Linked DNA regions of Homo sapiens. The protein of the gene in region 2 purifies or fractionates together with the protein of the main gene of each other region. This does not show direct contact. Each region holds a gene or a part of one and is shown on either strand. Other genes may lie near its edges.

Region 1 (7,108 bases), on a different chromosome or scaffold from region 2:
CTTAGGGCATTTGTTGCCTTTGTTTGGTATCCTGACAGTATCTGTATATAATTTAAATTCAAAATTCATGCTAATTAGTCTTCTAAAAGACGAATTTAACCTCCACTCCATGTCAGCCACTCATCCTGGACATATTTCAACATTTGGAAATGTTCCACCTTCTATTCCTTTATGGAGTATAACCCTGTATATATAACTCTGGTTATATACAGTAAAACTCTGATCCTTTCCTACAACTTAATTCCCCAGTTTATGCTCAACTTTATGTCTTTAGTTGCATATCTACTTAGAAATAACTCCACTTTCAGCTAGTTTAATCATAACACAGAAAAGCTTTTATTATCATAGCAAAATCACTTGATTCCTCATCCTTTAGCAAGAAGAGCTGGTAAGTTACAATGTTCTTTGGATGGGTGAGAGCACTGAATATCTGAGTTTACTTTCACAAATTATAACTTCAAACTAACCTTTTGAAATCTTCTGCCAGCAGTAATGCCACATTAAAAGATTTCTAACATAAGTTGCTGAATTTCAGGCATACATGCAATGAGAGTCACCCTGTCAACAGTAAGCAGGACAGTGGCTTAGTGGGTGGGCAGCTACATACTAATTAATTCACTGATTATCACATTAAGATGTTTCTTCTTGGAGCTGGGTTCATAGTTTCATCAGATTTTAAAATGGGCCAATGTCCAATGCCCCTGGCCCACAAAATTAAGAACCAGTGACTTACATACAGATAGCAGTATATCCTTTATAAACTTAAGAATACCTACACCCCCAGCAACCATTTATTTAATATATTCCAGGAACTACTTCTTGAAAACCCGTAGTGCACTAATAATGAGTAGTCTGTTAAGAAAATAAGTCCCACTCTACATAACAAATAGAATACAAATAATACATCTTACCCTCTCTTAACAGACTCCAGAAATTGAGCATTTGTTGGTTCATTGTAAGGTCTCAATTCTCCATCATCTAAACTGAAACCATTGCTCCACAGTTTAAGCAAAATCTGAACCTTTTGGGTATAGAAAAAAAAAAAATATATATATATATATATATATTCACATATACATAAGAATATATCTCCCCCAAATAATTTTAAGTTCCAAATGTGATATCCTAAAACGTATTTACTTAATTTAAAATAGGGAGTTATTTCTACTATTCTTTATTCATAGTGAAAGACATTAATGAAACCACATGTGTTTGTTTAGCTAGTTTGCATTCAGCTTAACAAACTGACAATGGCTGCAAATACCAAAGGTCCTGCAGGTGGACCCTGGCCTCGAAGTACAATTATTGGTGGATGGTTCACAAGAAAATGAAAGCAATGAGAAGAGCTGTACTCCATGATTCCCACTTCCTTCATTTTCCTTCATCTGCACCCATACTCTTCTTTGCTACAGAGCTTAAATATTCATCCTAAGGGGAACAGAATTTCCAGTGACCTTCCAAGAAACTATCAATGTCTAAAATAAAATTAAAACTCCAAAATTTCAAAAGGCAACAGAAACAAAGAATGACTTTAGGTGTTCTTCATTTACACCTCACCTCATTTTAGATTATGAAAATATACCATTTATAATAATAACTATATATTTGTTCATTTTTCTTTTTTTAATTGATTTTTTTATCTTAAAGATCCAGGGTCTTACTATGTTGCCCAGGGTGGTCTCGAACTCCTGGGCTCAAACAATCTGCCCACCTCAGTCTCCCAAAGTGCTAGGATTATAGGCGTGAGCCACTGTGCCTGGCCCAAGTTCATTTTTTTAAACACCTTTTTTTTTTTTTTTTTTTTAAAGAGATAGGGTCTGGCTATGTTTTCCGGGCTGGCCTTGAACTTCTGGGCTCAAGTGATCCTCCTACCTCAGCCTCTGGAGTAGTTGGGACTCCAGATGCATGTCACCACGCCTGGCTGCAAATTCATTTGGAAAATGAATCACACATTCTTTCAACAAATAGTTCCATATCTCTAAGTGCAAGGCATAATTGTGATACAAAACATAAAGATCGAGACTGAAAACTCACACATCATTGGTCCTTTTAACCCATGTTTTAAAAAGTAACAAAAATATATTTGTATTATCAATTCTTAATTTTAAAACCAACAGTTTTAGTAACTAGAAGCAAATATTTATACTTTTTCATTTTGATTATTGTACCTACATCTTGCAGCTGATTTTCTCCATAGATATATTCAGACCGCTTACAAAAAGAACTACCCAATCTGTATCCTCCACCTGTAAATGACTAAAATACATAGCAAGTGAGTTAAAATTCACAAAGGATTATTCAGCAAAAAGTTATTATGTGATATGTATTTTAAAACTAGATTAATTCTAATTAGCCAAAGTGGCTCATACTGGGGAGCCTTCAAGAACCAAAATTACCATAAGACTTGACTAAAAGATCATTTCAAACCATTGACGAATAATGAAATGAAAACCAAAATTTAAGTTTCATTACAGCAGTGGTTCTCAACAATGGATGTCAAAATTATCATAGAGGCTTTTTTAAAAAGACACGTTTCTAGGCATATCCCAAATTTATTGAACCATAATACCTGAAGCCATCAGGTAGTTTAGATAACCTCCCCAAATGATTCTGATGGAGAAATTCCAGGTTGAGAAATGCTACTTGTAAGAATGTATGAAATGATACCACAAAAGACACGTAACTGTTCGTCTTTAGTATATCAATATTGTGTCAGTTGGTAACAATTATAAAAGCTGTATAGAGGTGGCTCATGCTCGTAATCCCAGCACTTTGGGAGGCCGAGGCAGGCGGATCACGAGGTCAGGAGATCGAGACCACCCTGGCTAACATGGTGAAACCCCGTCTCTACTAAAAATACAAAAAATTAGCTGGGTGTGGTGGCGGGTGCCTGTAGTCCCAGCTACTCTGGAGGCTGAGGCAGGAGAATGGTGTGAACCCGGGAGGCGGAGCTTGCAGTCAGCCCAGATGGTGCCACTGCACTCCAGCCTGGGCAACAGAGCGAGACCCTGTCTCAAAAAAAAAAAAAAAAAAAAAAAAAGAAATTTAGAAAGGTACAAAAGCAATTCAATGGAGAAAGGAGTGCCTTTCAAGAAGTGATGCTGGAGCAACTGGACATCCATAAGCAAAACAATAAACTCTGGTGTCAACCTCACACCTTATATAAAAAATTCAAATAGATCATAGCTTTAAATGTAAAGCTGTAACATTTTTCCAGATAACAAAGGAGAAAATATTTGGGACCTACAGTTAAGTAAAAAGTTCTTAGACAATACAGCAAAAGCATGATCCATAAAAGAAAAAAAAGGAATAAATTGGACTTTATCCAAGTTTATAGCTTTTCCTTAGTGAAAAATCCTGCTGAGGATAAAAATATGAATGACATTCTGAGAGAAAATATTTACAAACCATGTATCTGACAAAGGACCCATACCTATTAAAATATACAAAGAATTCTCAAAACTCAACAGTAACAAAATAATCCAATTAGAGAATGGGAAAGTAATGAAGAGATATTTCCTTGAAAAGAATAATACAGATAATGGCAAGGAAGCACATGAAACGATGTTCATCACTAGCTATTAAGAAAATGCAAATTAACATCATTAGTTATTAGACAAATAAAATAAAACCATGGCATGTTATCACTATACACCCATCAAAATGGCTAAAATTAAAAATAGTGACAATACCAAGTGCTGAAAAGGATGCAGAGAAACTTGCTCTCTCATATATGTGGGAATATAAAATGGCACAACCACTCTGGAAAATAGTTTGGCTGTTTCTTAAACTAAACATACACTTAATGTATGATCTACCAATTGCACTTCTGAGCATTTATCTCAGAGAAATAAAACCATAAGTGAGTAAAAAAACCTGTACCCAATTGCTCACAGCAGCTTTATTTGTAATAGTCAAAAGCTGGCAACTAAAATATCCCTCAATAAATGAATGGTTAAACTGTGGTATATCTATATAAAATGCTACTCGGGAATTAAAAAGGAACAAAGTTGTGATACAAGCAATAACTCTGACAGATCTGAAGGGCATTATGCCAAGTGAAAAAAGCTATTCCAAAAGGTCACATATTGTATGACTCCATTTGTATAACACTGTAGTTTCACCATGTTGGCCAGGCTGGTCTTGAACTGTGATCTGCCTGCTTCGGCCTCCCAAAGTGCTAGGATTACAGGCATGAGCCACCACACCCGGCTGGTTTAACACTCTTAACATGATAAAATTATAGAGATGAAAACCCGACTGGTATTGGCTAGAGGTTAGGGATGGCATGAGAGACGGGGTGGGTGTGAGTGCAAATGGTAGGCTATGAAGGAGAGTTTCAGTTGGGTGATTACACATGTGATAAAAGGACATAGACAGAGAGAAATGCCAAATTCCTGGCTTTCATATTATACTACAATCATGTGAAACGTAACCATTGGGGGGAACCATTGGGGGAAACCATTGAAGTGAAAGGTACATGAAACCTCCCTGTATTCTTTTTGCAAATGCCTGTGACTCTACTAATTATTTTGTAATTAAAAGGTAAATTAAAAAGTTGTTCAGAAATGTAAGAAATTGTCTCAACTTTCAATCATTAATAGAAATATTATAATTTTATAAAAATGAAACAAATATTTAAAACAGAAATATACAATTAGAAAAACAATGTTTGCAAATAATAGAAAAATGAAAGAGGAGGTAAAATATAGAAACAATGTATTTAGTTTAAAATTGAGCACTGACCTTAGATTTATCATCACCTGAAGCTCTTGTGGCTTCATTCAGAGGGACAGCCCCATGTTCCCTTGCCTCTTTGAAAAGTTCATTCACAATTTTCCCAGTTGAAGGTCGAACTATATTTAATCCACTGTATTCATGTTCACTTGAGTAAAACCTTTAAACATTTTAGTTCATGAATAAAAACTTAGGATAACAGACATAAACTGAAGTAAAAAGCTACATAGTCTTATGAAAATAAAAGTATTTTATTTAAAAAGAGGCATTATTTTGACTTCTATGAGAATATTTAATTTTTAAAATGGGATTAAGGAAAAGTATAATAAATAGGAAATCATATACTTTCTCACTGAGTTTGCAAAGATTGATTCTAAGGGCAAGTTCAGCCTCCAGCACGGCAACTGGCTTGCTTGCTGATCCCTCAGCCTTCTGTAACTGCTTATCACATACATCTCATTCACTAATTCAGCACTTCTGATGTAGAAGGAAAAGCAGTGTCAACAGTCAAAAGATAGTCCCTTCTCCCTAAGAAGGCCACACTCAGTAGAGACCTAGTTAGTGACGAGATCTTTAGATTTAGACAGTATAAACAGCTAATTCTAAACTAAAGGGTTATCTAGAGAGGATTTATCTTTCAGAGATTTTTGGATTTAAGAGACCTACTCCCTTAAAAGCCCCTGCGTTTGTTAAAAGTAAATAATTTAGACAGTAATTTTTTGGCGACCAATTTCTACTTTGACTCCAACTTCATAAATGGTCCTAGGAAACATAAAAATTACCTTTACGTAAGATTAATAACCTACTTTTATCTTTCAAGATTTTTTTCTATCAAGAATATCAGAAACTATAAACAATGAAGTATCAACATGGAGACTTCCAGGGTAAGATGACAATCAAACTTCAGTTGTTAAAATACTTATAACTCTCCAATCCAATTCCAAATTCACACTGAACTGACACATAGAACAAAACAATGGGGGGAAATGATATCTGCCTTGGAGACTAGGAATGGAATTCACCTTCAAGGCTTTCTCCTAAATTAGAATATGCAAAACTGAGTAAGATAGAGGAAAGAACAGACCAGCTCTCACTTTGCAGTAAAGGAAGGAAAAGATCCATCAGGATGGAGAACAAGGAGACACCAGGAGAACCCTACTAAACCCCACAAACTGCAGAAGGTGGAGGTGGGGCTTCATCCTGCCAGTGCTCTGGAGAAGTACACTGGGCCCAAATTTATCTAGAGCAGGAGCCTATGGAAGCCCTTGTCCCAAGCTTACACTCAAGGGTCCAGAGTAGCAAGCAAGGTTGAACACTGCCCTAGTTGGCTTTTAAGACAAGCCTTAGTGTTAGAAGCAGATTATTTTAGGGAGCGACGACAAACACAGAAAAGCAAAGCAACACTTCCTGCTGCAGCTGTCTGCTGCCGTAACACTCCTCCCCTCTCTGGAGTGCCCTGGAAACGAGGAATGGAAGTCACCTTCAAGGCTTTCCACATCTCTAATCTGGCAAAGTGAATAATCATTCCTTTTTATCTCAGTCTTAGTGAGAAAGACCTTACCGCAAAAATCGGTCATAGCAAATGATTTCCTATCTCCTTTACGGTTAACGGTTTTTATTATTTGAAATCTTTGCCTACTCTAAGGTCATAAAGATATTCTATTTTCTTCCAGAAATTTGTTTTAATTTCTATATTTAGATCCACAACCCATATGGAACTGACGTTTATAGGTGGTATAAGGTAGAGGACAAGAACTATTTTTTCTCTACATAAATGTCCATTTGTCCCAGTACCACCTAATGAAATTCTGCCCCTCACTGCTCTGCACTGTCATAAATCAAGTTGCCTATGATTCTTGAGTTCTCGTATTTTGGTCCATGGTCTACTGTCAGTTCTTACTCTCTTAACCATTGCAGCTTTACAATAAGTCTTTGCATGCAGCAGTGTAAGTCCTCAACTTTAATTCTTCATGAATGTTTGGGGCAAAAATATTTATTGATTGCTGAAGTAATTCTCTATACTCATTCAAACTAACTTATTAAATATAAGTGAAAAGGAATAAAAGATAGGCATCTGTAGTACAGAATTAGTACTCAGCTGGGCCTTAAAAGGATTTAGGACATTAGGACTTAGATAAGCACAGAGGACAAGGGACAAAATTCTAGGAATGAAGAGGAACACAGGAGGAAAACATCAAAATGACCAGAGGAATCAGAAAAAGAATCAGTCTTTTACAGTTTTCTTTGTATGCAATTATGTCATTACACATAATGAGCTTTATTTATTTCCAATTTGTATACTTTTGTTTTTCTAATCTCATTGTGCTGACTAAAACCTCCAGTACAAGTTGAATGAAAATTGTGATAGGGG
Region 2 (7,501 bases):
CCACTGTCATCCCTGGCTTCTCCTTCCTCATCTCCTATATCACCAAGATCTGCCAATTCTACCTTTTTTAGTGGCCCCTCCTTCTTATTCCCACCATCGCTCTCCTGGTTCTCTTCATTTCTTCACTGAGCTTCAGCAACATCTCCAATTTTTTTGTCTCTCATTTAGGCTCTCTACCAATCTGTCATTTGAGTGTTGCCAGTGATCCTTTCCAAATGCAAAACTGATCCAGTCACTGACCCAAATCCTCCTTATTACCTTTAAGGAAAATAAACTCATGGTCCTTAGGTTCCTTCTGATTTGGCCCACATTTGCCTTTCTGGGCTTACTTCCTCCCATTTTCTGCTAATACACATGAAGAAGTATTCTCCAGTTCAGCCACAATAAACCACGGCTTAGTTGTTCTCCCGGCCTTCGTGCCTCAGCCCAGGCTGTTCTGCTTCGGAAGCACCTGGTCATTTCCTGTTTACCCTTTATGACATGCAATTCCAGAGCCCAGGAAGTACCTAACACATTGTGAATGTGGAATCAATGTCTGCTCTATGCCTAAGTCAATAACAGCCCTTTATATTAAAAAAGTTCATTACGACATACAAGATATTTTCATTCATAATCTATAATCACATTTATCTTGATTCTCACAACTAGACTATCAGACAACCATTGCAGGTTTTATTATCCCAAGTTATCAATGACAAAATAATAGCTTCTGGTTTTCCAAAAGGGCAAAGCTAGAAATTAATGCAATGACCCCTAACTAAAGGTTTGACCTCTCTATTATTACCCTACTTAAATTATCAGGTACACAATGAAGACCACCATGTGCTAAAAGCAACACAGAAGAAGCGTAAGTCATGCACTTAGCTCCAAACATATTTAATCCAGTCAGAGGTACAAGATCCATCCATATGAGATAAAATTCTATAGGAAAGCATCCTACAGAGCTAAATGCTAAACCGTGTAGCACCCCCAGTAGGAGAGCGAAGTGCATTTAGTGGGCATTAGCCTAATCCTGAAAGACTTTCCAGAAACTGGGGCAGCATGCTCCTGCAGTCCCATTTATTTATTTATTTATTTAACTTTTATTTTATTTTTTTTGAGACGGAGTCTTGCTCTGTCACCCAGGTTGGAGTACAGTGGCCCAATCTCGGCTCACTGCAAGCTCCGCCTCCCGGGTTCACGCCATTCTCCTGGCTCAGCCTCCCGAGTAGCTGGGACTACGGGCGCCCGCCACCATGCCCGGCTAATTTTTTGTATTTTTAGTAGAGACGGGATTTCACCGTGTTACCCAGCATGGTCTCGATCTCCTGACCTCGTGATCCGCCTGCCTTGGCCTCCCAAAGTGCTGGGATTACAGGCGTGAGCCACCGCGCCCGGCCAGTGTCCTTTAGACTGTGGACGAGTAAAGGGCGGAGAGATAGACATTCCATTTGAGTGCAACAAATTGAATGTAGACCATGACAAGTTTGGAGAACAAAGAGGAAAACACCAAAAATAGAAATTGATTGTTTTCCACCTTTGACAGAACTCCCTAAGAGTTTCAGAAAGTATCAGATAGAGAAAAAAGTACCCTCACTCTGGTAAAGAAAACAAAAATCAACAAAAACCCTAAAACCAACAAAAACAAAAATGAAAACTTCCTTCAACTTACCACAGTAAGGCTAGAAGACAGAACTATTAATAACATGTTCATTTGCTACATTTTTTATCAACCTATTTGCATTAAATAATGTTAACCTCCCACTAAAGTTATTTCTACTTTGAATTCTGAGGTAGTCAAGAGATTTAAATAAGAAAAAGACTACATCTGTCTCTTCATTGTTACTTTGTTATTCCCGATCCATAATGCTTCAGTTTGCTACATTTAGTTAAACATCAGCAAAGTAAACAATAATGTAACTATTCTATCTAGTAATGAGCTTGGAGACTTAAAAAAATATATATAGAACTTTATTCCTTTTCATTTGACCACTAATAACATACTGAACATGCCCGTGAAAAGAAATAAAACACAATGGTAGAAAACTCCAAAAAGGTAGAGTGTCTTTACCATTCATCCCCCACCCCTATCTCATTAGCAACTTTCTGATCTCGGGTGTTTTCTCCAATAGTAAAGTGTATCCCTATATCCAAAACAATTTCTCTAAAGCCCTTCTCACTCATTCAACAAACATTTAACAGGTACATTGCACAAGGTGATAGAGGAAGAGAAACTGAATATTGTCCCTGCCTCGGACATTTCAGTGCCTTTACGCCTGACTTCCACTCCTAACCAGTCTTCTTTCACAGGTACCCTGTCCCCTAAAATCAAATGTTGCTTTTCACAGTTGCCTTTACTTGTCACCTAAAGTATTTCAATTCAAAATTTCCTCAAAGTCAACTTAACAGCTGCTGATAAAATAATCATTCTATATGATTACAAAGTGTTTCACCAATACATATCCCCATTTTTTCCAAACTTAAAACTTCTTCAGTCCTTATTACTTTAGCATAGAGACCTGCACTGTTGTTTCTTCTTTTTAAAAAAATACTAATGCTAATCCTTTACTGTTTGAGCAGACTTAATCCTACCTTTTCTTTTGTCAATAAATGCCAGGTGTTTTTTAAATCACTATCTTGTCACTTTTGATTATGATATACTGATCACTCTATTTGTATCTTGAATGAAAAGACCGCTTTGTGATTTTGCTAATGATATGTAAACTAGAACTTGAGAACCACTGGATACAGGAGTACTGCTGATCTTTATACTTTCTGTCTAAAAATGAAGCCCCTGTCTCTAAATTTCAGGAACAGGGAGTTAAGGTTCCATGAAGTGTTTACTTTCCACCCTTAATTTATTACCTTAATACTTCAGCTTAAGAATTATGTGTTCTGTATATATCACGCTGCTTGTCAATATCCACACATAAACCTTCTTGTTTTGACAATTAATCTGAAAAAGTCCCCATATAGTCTGAGAGGGGGAAAACCTAATTTGGAAGAATATAATAAATGTCAGTTTCCATCACAGAATATATGCTTCTCAAGTTCAATTAACCTCTCAATGATTCCCTAAGAGGAAAGTAATTCTCCTTAGTGTCCTTGTCATCCATGGAGTGGAAATCTTTCTACTGGCAAGATTAGTAATCACTTCCATGACCCCCAAAACGGCTCTTCCTTCCATTTCCCTCAAGTACTGTCTGGAGCAGCGGTTGGAATTAATAGAGGGGCCATAATCTCCAGACCTGAATACCAAATCAATCCTGCAGCCCCCCACACCCTTAATGCCCCTGCACTTTCTTGCTTATCCTTTTTCTCTCGTCTCCATTTTTCTTTCCTCCTTCTGGTGTTCCGGAACCTATGATACTCTCCTGGTTGTTTGAATTTTTACAACCTACCAGATAATAATCTCTTGTGATCCTCAAAGCTTCCTTAAAGCAAACCCTGAATCACTGTGTTTTAAAACCAGTATGAAAGACTATTGTGTGGGATAATGTTACATTGTTTCACAGCCCTACAAAGTTTGGCCACAAAACGTGTGGGCAGATTCCGTAACTCAACCGGAAACGCGAAGGACTGAAACAAATCAACACACAAAAAACGAAGCCAGCGAGAAAGATCCAACCCGGGCCCCCTGCCTGAAATGGGACACGGGGATGACGGGGCAAAGCCGGGCAAAACCGTGCTCCTGGCTCTCGCGATTCAGGAGACGCGCCAGGCTCACTGGGGACGACAGCGACGACGGCGGCGGCTCGCATTGCTCCACGCTTCCCGTCAGGGGGGCTCGAGGGACCGCCCCAGGCCCGGCCCATGCCCGGGCTCGGAGGGAGCCCCTGGTGCGAGGGCTGCCCGCAGGGCTCCGTCCTCCCGCTGAGGCGCGGCTCCCGGAGCAGGAGGCGCGGAGGCCGCCCTCGGCGTTTCGGAGTCGGGGCGGGGAACGTCCACGGCCAACTGCGGGCAGGGGACCCCCAGGCGGCTACAACAGGTGCGCCGGGGCCGCCCACCCGGCTCGGGGCGCGCCCGCCCCTGCGCCGACCCCCGACCCCTTCCGCCGCCGGGGCCCCGCTGTTACCTGCAGCGGCGGCTCCCGATTCCCGGGAGGGCGGCCCAGGGCCGGCGCCTTACCCGCGGGCAGGCCCACTCGCCCGACGGACGCCGCGGGTCGGCGACAGCGGGGACCGCGGGTCGGCGACGTCGGGGCACAGGTCCTGCGGGGCCGCGGGGGCCGCCAGGGAGGGCGCGACCGCCTGACCGGGCTTCAGGAGCAGTGTCCTCAGCCGGTGACCTGGCCGCTACCCTCGCTCAGTGTCCCCGGCGACGCGCGGGTCCTCACGCGCTCCCTCACTTCCTGCGGCTTTTGGTCCCTCCCGCTCGCCGTCCCTTTAGTTCTGCCCACTTCGCCTCCGGGTTGTCAGGGCAACCGTAGCGACGCCGGCCCTGGCTGAGAGGCGTTAGGAGTCCGGGGGTTCGCCCGCGGAGGCCGGGGAGCAGCCGACCATGGAGCCCCAGAGTAAGGGAGGCCCGGGCTGGAGCTGGGACCGGGGCGGGCGACCGGGCTGGGGCTCCCCGGGAACGAGTGTGGGCGCCCCGCGCGCGACTCCGCAGGTTTCAACGCTCGGACACGGAAATACGGTTTGCGTCTCCTCGCGCTTTTCTCTCCTGGAGAGGGGAGAAGGGGGCTACATCCTGCCAAGTCTGTATGGTTGGGCCGCCGGCGCCCTAGAGTCCGCGCTGGGGGCTGGGAGCGACTGGAGAGCCCCGAGGTATGGGTGGGGAAGGGCGCAGCGACCCCAGCGTGCGTCTTCCTGAAACTTCGCCCGGACGGTTCCATTTACTCCTCCTCCTACTCATGATTTTAGTTTGGTAGTTTGGTTCATTAATTGTAAGTAGCCCATTTTTCTTCTAAAATGTCAGCAATTAAACACGTCCGAGGCTGGGTCTTGTATTTATTAGAGACCCCGTCTTACTCCCCGCCCCCCGCCCCACACCCCTAGTCTGCGACTTGAAGGAGAGAGAGAGAAAAGAAGAGCTTTGTCCAAGTGTATTTGATTCATTCTTAGGGGTTCTACAAGTTAGGACACTCAAAAAATGTTTGTAATCTCTTTTTCTGTTTTCCCATGTTGCTTTCGATGTATGGCAAAAGTTGTGCAGTTTTGAGTTATCAGATCTAAACACGAGCTCTAACTTACTATTTTTGTTGTTGTTTTTACCTTTCCAGGGACTTTGTTTCAAGGCCTTTCTTTCTCTGCCCCGCCTAAGCTGTCTTATTGTTCCTTTTGTTCTCAAAATAAGGGGAGTGTTTTGTATGGAGACTTAAAATTTATCTAAAACCTTTATAGAAGGATGCAGTTTGACTCTCAAACCAAGTCGTCTTATCTTGTACAATTTCAGAAATGAAGAACTCAGACCAAATCTATTCTCTGGGGAAAATGTTGGCATTTTTAAAGGTCATTCGTTTTCCACCAAGAAAGTTTCAAATACTTTTCCTTTTAACTCATTTGCTGAGGAGAAAGCTTGCAAGTTGTGACTTATAGTTGCTTGATAGATTTTGTACAGTATTTGTCATTTGCATTTACAGCTCTTTGGATTCTACATTTTTTTAACCTAGTAAAAGAAATTTAGCATACAAGAACGCTAAAATTTTTGTTTTATGTCAAACTGATGGCAGGCTGTGTATATTCCCGCCTTAGAGAAGTGAGTTGAAATATACCTTTTAAAAACAGCAACTTGGCCTGGCCCGGTGGCTCACGCCTGTAATCCCAGCACTTTGGGAGGCTGAGGCAGGCGGATCACGAGGTCAGGAGATTGAGACCATCTTGGCCAGCATAGTGAAACCCATCTCTACTAAAATACAAAAAAAAAAAAAAAAAAAAAAAAAAAAAAAAAAAAGCCAGGTGTGGTGGCGCGTGCCTGGAGTCCTAGCTATTTGGGACGCTGAGGCCGAGGCAGGGGAATCGCTTGAACCCGGGAGGCGGAGGTTGCAGTGAGGCCAGATTGCACCGCTGCACTCCAGCCTGGTGACAGAGCGAGACTCCATCTCGAAAAAACAAAAAAAAGAACTTTATTTCTTCAGATTTATGTTACTGTTTTCATGTGTAAACTATAATTTCAAGTTCTTCAGTGCTGTCTTTATCCATTCATTCATTTATAGTGCCTGTTATGTTGCAGCTCTGTTCTAGGGATTGAGGATTGAACAACGGATCGGACAGTGTTAGTTTTGGTCATCCCAGGAAAACTAAGCAGAGGCTTGCTCAAGAACTCCTGAGGTCTTGGTGGGGTTCGGAGATTGGGGGAAGAGGAGATGGACAAAGGCTCCCAAGAGGAAGTAGTACTGGGTCTGCAGAATGACCCAGCAAAGAATGAGGGCAAGGGATTCCAGGCAGTGGGAATTACTTGTACATAGGCCCTGAGACCTGAGAGCAGCGTGGGTTTGAGGCTCACGGTAGGAAGATTAGTAAAGCTGTAGCTAAGGAGAGGAGGAGGAAAAAACAGGGTTGGAAGGAGGGAGGAGAAATGAGATAAGGCTGGAAAATTCAACCGGAGCCTGATCAGAAAGGTTCTGTAACCATGTGAGAAATGTATTACTTATGTGAACTATACATTTATATCTCATGTCATTGGATTTTGAGGTGGAAAATATTTAATTTATACCTGAGGAATGACTGTAAATTTCTTTCTTTCCACATATTCTTAAATTATTTCATCAATTTAATTTTAAATAATTCAATCACCATTTAGCTCAAGTTTTGTTGTTTTTTTTTTTTTTTGAGACAGGGTCTTGCTCTGTCACCCAGGCTGGAGTATAGTGGTGCGATCATAGCTCAGTACACCCTCGAACTCTTGGACTCAAGCAATCCTCTCACCTGAGCCTCCTGGCTAGATGTGACTACAGGTGTGTGCCACCATACCCCGCTAATTTATTTATTTATTTAGAGACAGAGTTTCGCTGTTGTTGCCCAAGCTGGAGTGCAATGATGTGATCTTGGCTTACTGCAACCTCCGCCTCCCGGGTTCAAGTAATTCTCCTGCCTCAGCCTCCCAAGTAGCTGGGATTACAGGCATGCGCCACCATGCCTGGCTAATTTTGTATTTTTAGTAGAGATGGGGTTTCTCCATGTTGGTCCGGCTGGTCTTGAACTCCTAACTTCAGGTGATCCTCCCGCCCTGGCCTCCCAAAGTGCTGGGATTACAGGCGTGAGCCACCGTGCCCGGCCCCTAATTTTCTTTTTAATTTTATTTACTTTGAATAGAGCTAAAGTCTGATTTTGTTGCCCAATTTGTTCTCGAACGCCTGGCCTCAAGTGATCCTCCTGCCTCGTCCTCCCAAAGTGCTAAGATTACAGGCGTGAGCCAGCACACCCAGCCTGGAAATTCTTTTACAGTCTAAGAAACATAATTTGGATAAATATTTACTACCATTCACAGTTACTAAATATTTAAAAGGACAAGATTAAATGATCTTTGAGGTTTCTTTTAACTTGGAGATTTGTATCCAACCAGATTTCACCTGAGACGGAAG
Region 3 (7,108 bases), on a different chromosome or scaffold from region 2:
CTGAATCTTCAGAAGTCCCTACTATTCTTTGACCTGTAGGCTTTATTCAATATATAGACTAAAATCCAGAAAACTTATTCTCAAGGAAAAAGGATGAAAACACCACCGGTCTAATTTCTTTTCTTTTTTTTTTTTTTTTTTTTTGAGACGGAGTCTCACTCTGTCGCCCACCAGGCTGGAGTGCAGTAGCGCGATCTCGGCTCACTGCAAGCTCTGCCTCCCGGCTCATGCCATTCTCCTGCCTCAGCCTCCTGAGTAGCTGGGACTACAAGCGCCCGCCACCACGCCTGGCTAATTTTTTGTATTTTTTTTAGTAGAGACGGGGTTTCACTGTGTTAGCCAGGATGGTCTCAATCTCCTGACCTCATGATCCTCCCGCCTCGGCCTCCCAAAGTGCTGGGATTACAGGCGTGAGCCACTGCGCCTGGCCACCACCGGTCTAATTTCAACACTGCAAGACAATGATTCCATCTTGCTGTTGGAACATTCTTCTCATGTTTGACACCGTTCCAAGGCACCAGCTTTGAACTAAAGATACACATATCTTTTATTTAAAGTACAGCAGAGCTAAATGAACACTGGCAAGTATCTCTTTGTAGACTACAGATGTTCCTTAATTAGGATGGGATTATGTCCAATAAACCCATTGTAAATTGAAAATACTTAGGTCAAAAATGCACTGAGGCCAGGCACAGGGGCTCATGCCTGTAATCCCAGCACTTGGGGAGGCCAAGGCGGGTGGATCACCTGAGGTCAGGAGTTGGAGACCAGCCTGGTCAACATGGTGAAATCCCATCTCTATTAAAAACACAAAAAGTTACTCGGGCATGGTGGCAGGTGCCTGTAATCCCAGCTACTCGGGAGGCTGAGGCAGGAGAATTGCTTAAACCCAGGAGGCGGAGGCTGCAGTGACCTGAGATCGCGCCACTGCATTCCAGCCCAGGTGGGAGAGTGAAACTCTGTCTCAAAAAAAAAAAAAAAAAAAGCATTGAATACACGTAATCTACCTAACATCATAGCTTAGCCTAGCCTGCCTTAAATGTGCTCAGAACACTTACATTAGCCTACAGTTGGGCAAACTCAGCTGGCAACACAGTGCCCTGTAGAGCAGGGGTCATTCCCCCTTCTCATGATGTGGCTGACGAGGAGCTATCTGGCATCTCGAGAGTATCTGGAGGCATACTGCTAGCCCAGAAAAAGATCAAAATTCAAAACGTCAAGTATGGTTTCCATAGAATGCATACTGCTTTCACACTATCGTAAAGTCAAAAAATTGTAAGTCAAACCATGGTAGTTTGGAGACCATCTGTACTTCAGAAGAATGTGGCGTATGTCATCAGGAAAAGGACCATATTGTTGAATCAGTAACAGTCTGCAGTAACAGAATCTGGAAGCTGAGAAACTTCTAGGATGTCTAGTTTCCCATATTAAAAATATAAATGGTAAAGGAATGAGAGAAGTATAGATAAGGAAGAAAAGGAAAAAGGCTCCCTCTGAAAGCAGGGTCACGAGGCCTGAGCGGCTGTGAAGTTGAGGGATTTTCATCACGGACGCAGTAAAATGCACAGCAGGTGTATTTCTTAGGTTTATCACCAAACTTTATAGGCAAGGAAGCCAACTTCAGAGTGAAGGGAATAAGAGGTGTTCCATTAAGTTCAAATACACCACCACACCTCCAGCTATAACTGTGAAAATTACAGGTGTGTGGCCTCAGATTGCTCACTGTATAAACCATCAAGGAGACCAGGAAACCCCAGGGGAGCAAATCCAAGGAGCAATCACGGTGCTTGGCAGTGAACAGGAGTGGCGCAGCCACGGCGAACGTGACCCATGAGGTCCCTAAGGAGGGCTCCCACACCGTGCCCCAAGCTGCTCTGCTCCTCCGTCCAGAGAAACGCACTCCGGCCCTCCCCGAGAATCCTGCCCTCTGTTGGGAGCGAGTCATACATTCCCCTAGGGCTAGTGGCGGACACTCTGAAAACATGATCCCTTGCTTCTCCCACCACACTGCACCCTCCTCTCGGTACTGTGGAGGACGCTGCAAGTGGGGAGTGTCCACACGTCACACCTGGAGCACGTTCCTGACAGCTGGAGCGCCAGCTGTGGAGTCAGAAGTCTGAGCCCACCACTGAGCAGTCACGCAACCTTACAGGCTAGTGACCTTCTTGTGACTTGGTGTCCTCACTGTGAAACGGACAAGTCAAGGTGCAGGAAAAGCTCTAAACTGCACGGGAGCAGTAACCACTCTTTCAGGGCCAGCCTTCTCAGATCACTGAAACGGGTGAGCAGTCACGAACCGGCATGGATGGGAGGTATTCTGTAAGCAGAGGTGCAGCACAGAGTACAAGGTCAACAGAGACCCAACCAAACATGAGTCTCTTTACTAACACTGAATCCAACATAACGTCCTTTCCTCCAAGAGTGACTGCATTTAGAGAGCAAGAGCCTGCCCCCGGCCTCACGGGCTGGCTCCAAGGACCAAAGAGACCTGCAGCGATTCCTACAAAAGAGCCAATAAAGACTCTCAGACTCGCATCTCTTCAGTTATGAGGAGGTCTTCCCTGTACTCTAGGGGCCCCACACTGTCCCTCTCATGCTGGAGGACAGGAAGGAATGCCCTCGGCAGGCCCTCCGAGCAGAACTCACCCCTCCTGGACACCCTCGCAGCTCCAGCTGAAGAGGAAGACACAATGAGGAGCCATGGACTGAGGCATCAGAACGGTACAAAGACCTCCCTGACCTTCCAGATCTTACTTTATAATGGAGGAAGATAACTTTTTTGGAATTAACACTTCTAATTTCTTTCTTTTTTTTTTTTTGAGATGGAGTTTTGCTCGTCACCCAGGCTGGAGTGCAATGGCACGATCTCGGCTCACTGCAACCTCCGCCTCCCGGTTTCAAGCGATTCTCCTGCCTCAGCCTCCCGAGTAGCTGGGATTACAGGTGTGTGCCACCACGCCTGGCTAATTTTGTATTTTTAGTAGAGATGGGTTTCTCCCATGTTGGTCAGGCTGGTCTCGAACTCCTCATCTCAGATGATCCGCCCACATCAGCTTCCGAAAGTGCTGGGATTACAGGCATGAGCCACCGCAACCGGCCGACACTTCTGATTTCTACTGAGGTTTGGTTCTGGAGTCTGACAGCCTGCTCGATAGCTACAGGCAGACCGCGCCCGGCCAACACTTCTGATTCCTACTGAGGTTTGTTTCTGGAGTCTGAGAGCCTGGTCGATAGCTACAGGACAGACACAGGCCTGGACTTCTTCCAGCCTCAGTCTCCTCACCCATGAAATGGGGCACAGCCACCAGTTTTCCAAGTGGGGTGAGAACCCACAATGGGTGCAAAACTAACGCTCACAATCACTAACATCTGCAGATCGACCAACACGATGATTCCATTCCCAAACGTTCCTTCTGGCTCTGTCACCCAAGGGTCTGGCTCTGTCACCCAAGCTGGAGTGCAGTGGTGTGATCTCAGCTCACTGCAACCTCCCCCTTCCGGCCTCAAGGGATCCTCCCACCTCAGCCTCCTGAGTAGCTGGGACTACAGGCATGCACCGTCATGCCTAATTTTTGTATTTTTTGTAGAGGTGGGGTTTCCCTATGTTAAGCAGGCTGGTCTCAAACTCCTGGGCTCCAGTGATCCACCCACCTCAGCCTCCCAAAGTGCTGGGACTACAAGTGTGAGCCACCACACTTGTTCCTTCACTGACTCTCAGATGTATGAGATCCACTTAGGCCTGACACCAGCTGCCTCAGCAATTCGCCATGGAGAGGTTCCCTTGTCTTATTTCATAGCCCCTGTCATAATTTCATCATCTTCCCGTGCCACATCATGTGATTTATAAGGTAATTCATGTAGCTCCTGATAGAAAAGGAGTCAAACTTCGGAAAAAATATCCACTCGCCGGGTGCAGTGGCTCACACCTGTAATCCCAGCACTTTAGGAGGCCAAGGTGGGTGGATCACCTGAGGTCAAGGGTTCAAGACCAGCCTGGCCAACATGGCAAAACCCCGTTGCAGTGAGCCGAGATCACGCCACTGCACTCCAGCCTGGACGACGGGGGGGGGGGAAAATATATACATACACACACACACACACACGTATATATATATTTATACATATATGTGTATATATTTATGTGTATATATACGTATATATATGTTTATATATATATGTACATATATACATAAATAAATATATAGACCCATCTCTAGACTTCCAGGTAATGATATTAATTTGAAATAAGATGACATGTAAGGCCAGGTGCCGTGGCTCATGCCTGTAATCCCAGCACTTTAAGAAGCCAAGATGGGAGGATCACTTGAGCCCAGGAGTTTGAGACCAGCCTGGGCAATACAGGGAGACCCTGTCTCTCTTAAAAAAAAAAAAAAAAAAAAAATAGCTAGGCGTGGACATCTGTAGTCTTAGCTACTGAGGAATGTGAGGCAAGAAGATCACTTGAGCCCAGGAGGTCAAGGCTGCAATGAGCTGAGGCCGCAACACCATACTCCAGTCTGAGCGATGAAGTGAGACCCTGCCTCAAAAAAAGATGACACGCAGGAGGAACAAGATGAAGAAGTAGGTTGGGTGTGGTGGTTCACCTGTAATCCCAGCACTTTGGGAGGCCGAGGCGGGCAGATCACTTGAGGTCAGAAGTTCGAGAACAGCCTGGCCAACATGGTGAAACCCCATCTCTACTAAAAATATAAAAAAGTTAGCCAGGCATGGTGGTGCACACCTGTAATCCCAGCTACTCGGGAGGCTGAGGCAGGAGAATCTCTTGAACCCAGGAGGCGAAGGCTGCAGTGAGCTGAGATAGAGCCACTGCACTCCAGCCAGTCTGGGCGACAGTGAGACTCCGTCTTAAAAAAAAAAAAAAAAAAAAAAAAAAGGACGGAGAGGTGCTGTACACCTTAAGAAAGAGTCCCCCTTAGAAGCAGTTCTCCCATTTGGTCGGCTGGATCCCAGACACTTGATTTTCCACGCCCTCTTCCCTGGGACTTCTGCGATCACAAGCAGAAGAGGGCAGATGGCATTTTAATAATATAGTAATTCCATCAGAAAAAACATGTGACTTAGTACTACTAATCTGACAGGCAGAAATGTAGGGAATTGTACTCAATGAATTTAACCAACTTCTCTCCATTTAGTACCAATTACACTTCATTCAACCAGAGAGGACTACAAAAAAAAACGAGTAAATTTAAGAGCTTACTGTAAACCACTTCATTTCGAAGAAACCTTCCTAAAACACTTAGAAGTTATTTTCCAAAAGATTTATATTTTATAAATTCAACAAAGGTTCTTCTTTTCCTTTAGAAAGCTCTTAGGTTTAAGATAACAGTTTGCATATGATTACTACTTTTTTTTAAATCTCCAAGAGTTTACATGAGAATGCTAGTAGTTCAGTCCTGAATGAAAACAGAGAAAGAGAGAAAGGAACTCCAAATTTAGCTACATCAGAAAGCTAGAAAACACTGTTTCAGTGCACACACTGGGCAGATTGCGCACATTAAAACCCACTCCCCTAGATCGCGCCCACCGCACTCCAGCCTGGGAAACAGAGCAAGACTCCATCTCAAGAAAAAAAAAAAAACCACTCCCCAGCAGCCTCTGCATTCATTACATGTTATGCTAACATACTGGATTTATGTTAAACTCTACAAACTGAAAGCTTTGATAGTAGGGGAATGTGTAGGTTATTATTAATTCAAGTTCTGTTTTTTTTTTATTACCAACCACATGCCAGACACAAGTGATGCACTAGAAATGCAAGCACAAGACACCAGCTCTGTCCTCAAGGAATGGGCAGTGTGGCTATTTAAGTGCTGGCACCTGCCAGTCGTCTGAATGGGGAGCATGCTTTTAGGGACAGTGCTAGGGACTGGTGGAGAACACAGCCACACTGTGGTCTGCCTGCCACCTCCTGGACCTCTCCACACCCGCAGAGGCCTTTGGCCTCTTTTCTTTCCCACCCACATTCACACCCTGGGTGACCTCATCTGATGTGACCTCCAGTCTATCTCCAGCCCAGGCTTATTCTTTTAGCTCCAAACCTGTAGACCCAAAAGCCCACTGGACACTGCTCTACAAGGATGTCTAACATCCACCTCACATTCAACACACATAAATCCAAACTCGCAACAGAAAGCTTCCCACCAGACAGGACCTCCCCAAGTCTTCCCCATCTGAGTTTCTTTTTTTTTTTTTTTTTGAGACAGAGTCTCGCTCTGTCGCCCAGGCTGGAGTGCAGTGGCGCAGTCTTGGCTCACTGCAAGCTCCGCCTCCCGGGTTCACGCCATTCTCCTGCCTCAGCCTCCTGCGTAGCTGGGATCACAGGCGCCCGCCACTATGCCCGGCTAATTTTTTGTATTTTTAGTAGCGACGGGGTTTCACCGTGTTAGCCAGGATGGTCTCGATCTCCTGACCTTGTGATCCGCCCACCTCGGCCTCTCAAAGTGCTGGGATTACAGGCGTGAGCCACCACGCCCGCCCCCCTCCATCTGAGTTGCTTAGCTCAGGCCATACACTATGGGGCCATCTTTAACTCCTCCCTCTCTACCCATCCCTCTCCCAACTTCCAATCTACAAACAAATTCTATTGTCTCAACCTCCAAAACACATGCAGAAGTCAACCTCTTACCCACCCTGAGCTAATCCACTGGCATCTCCTTGCTGGCTTGTTCAACAGTCTCTTAGCTGGTCTCGCTGCCTCTGCCCTTGCCCCTCTGCAGTACATTCTCAAAAGAGATGCCAGAGCAAGCCTGTTGAACACAGTCTATCATGTGACTCCTCCTCTAGAATGAAACCTTCCAAACGGCTGCCATCCTGTTCAGAATAAACACTGAGTCCTCACTATGAGCTGCCATCCTGTTCAGAATAAACACCGAGTCCTCACTATGAGCTGGCAAGGCCCCACTACACTGAGCCTAAGTCACCTTTCTATCCTCAGCTCCTGCTTCTCCCACCGCCACCCGCTGCACCTGAGCCACACCAGGCTCTTGCTACCTGCCCTTCCTCCTACACTGCTTTAAGTCTTCGTCAAAACTTAAACCTTCAGAGTGAGACCCTTCCTGGCCATCCTGGCTACAATTCCAATCCTCCT

The links.
Region 1: the proteins of FANK1 (region 2) and UBXN2B purify together in Homo sapiens (affinity purification with mass spectrometry; 3 studies listed by BioGRID and IntAct, with this or other methods). This does not show direct contact.
Region 3: the proteins of FANK1 (region 2) and ATG4B purify together in Homo sapiens (affinity purification with mass spectrometry; 3 studies listed by BioGRID and IntAct, with this or other methods). This does not show direct contact.

The regions. Positions count from the first base shown.
Region 1 is NC_000008.11:58,428,308-58,435,415, reverse strand, and holds part of UBXN2B (UBX domain-containing protein 2B), read right to left. Parts: intron 4,898-7,108; coding exon 4,747-4,897; intron 2,257-4,746; coding exon 2,173-2,256; intron 1,022-2,172; coding exon 912-1,021; intron 559-911; coding exon of another isoform or gene 501-558; exon of another isoform or gene 313-500; intron 1-312. UniProt on the Homo sapiens protein: Adapter protein required for Golgi and endoplasmic reticulum biogenesis. Involved in Golgi and endoplasmic reticulum maintenance during interphase and in their reassembly at the end of mitosis.
Region 2 is NC_000010.11:125,892,164-125,899,664, forward strand, and holds the start of FANK1 (fibronectin type 3 and ankyrin repeat domains protein 1), read left to right. Parts: upstream 1-4,400; 5' UTR 4,401-4,479; coding exon 4,480-4,492; intron 4,493-4,642; exon of another isoform or gene 4,643-4,745; intron 4,746-7,501. UniProt on the Homo sapiens protein: Through the activation of JUN and AP-1-mediated transcription, may regulate apoptosis.
Region 3 is NC_000002.12:241,640,659-241,647,766, reverse strand, and holds part of ATG4B (cysteine protease ATG4B), read right to left. Parts: intron 1-7,108. UniProt on the Homo sapiens protein: Cysteine protease that plays a key role in autophagy by mediating both proteolytic activation and delipidation of ATG8 family proteins. Required for canonical autophagy (macroautophagy), non-canonical autophagy as well as for mitophagy.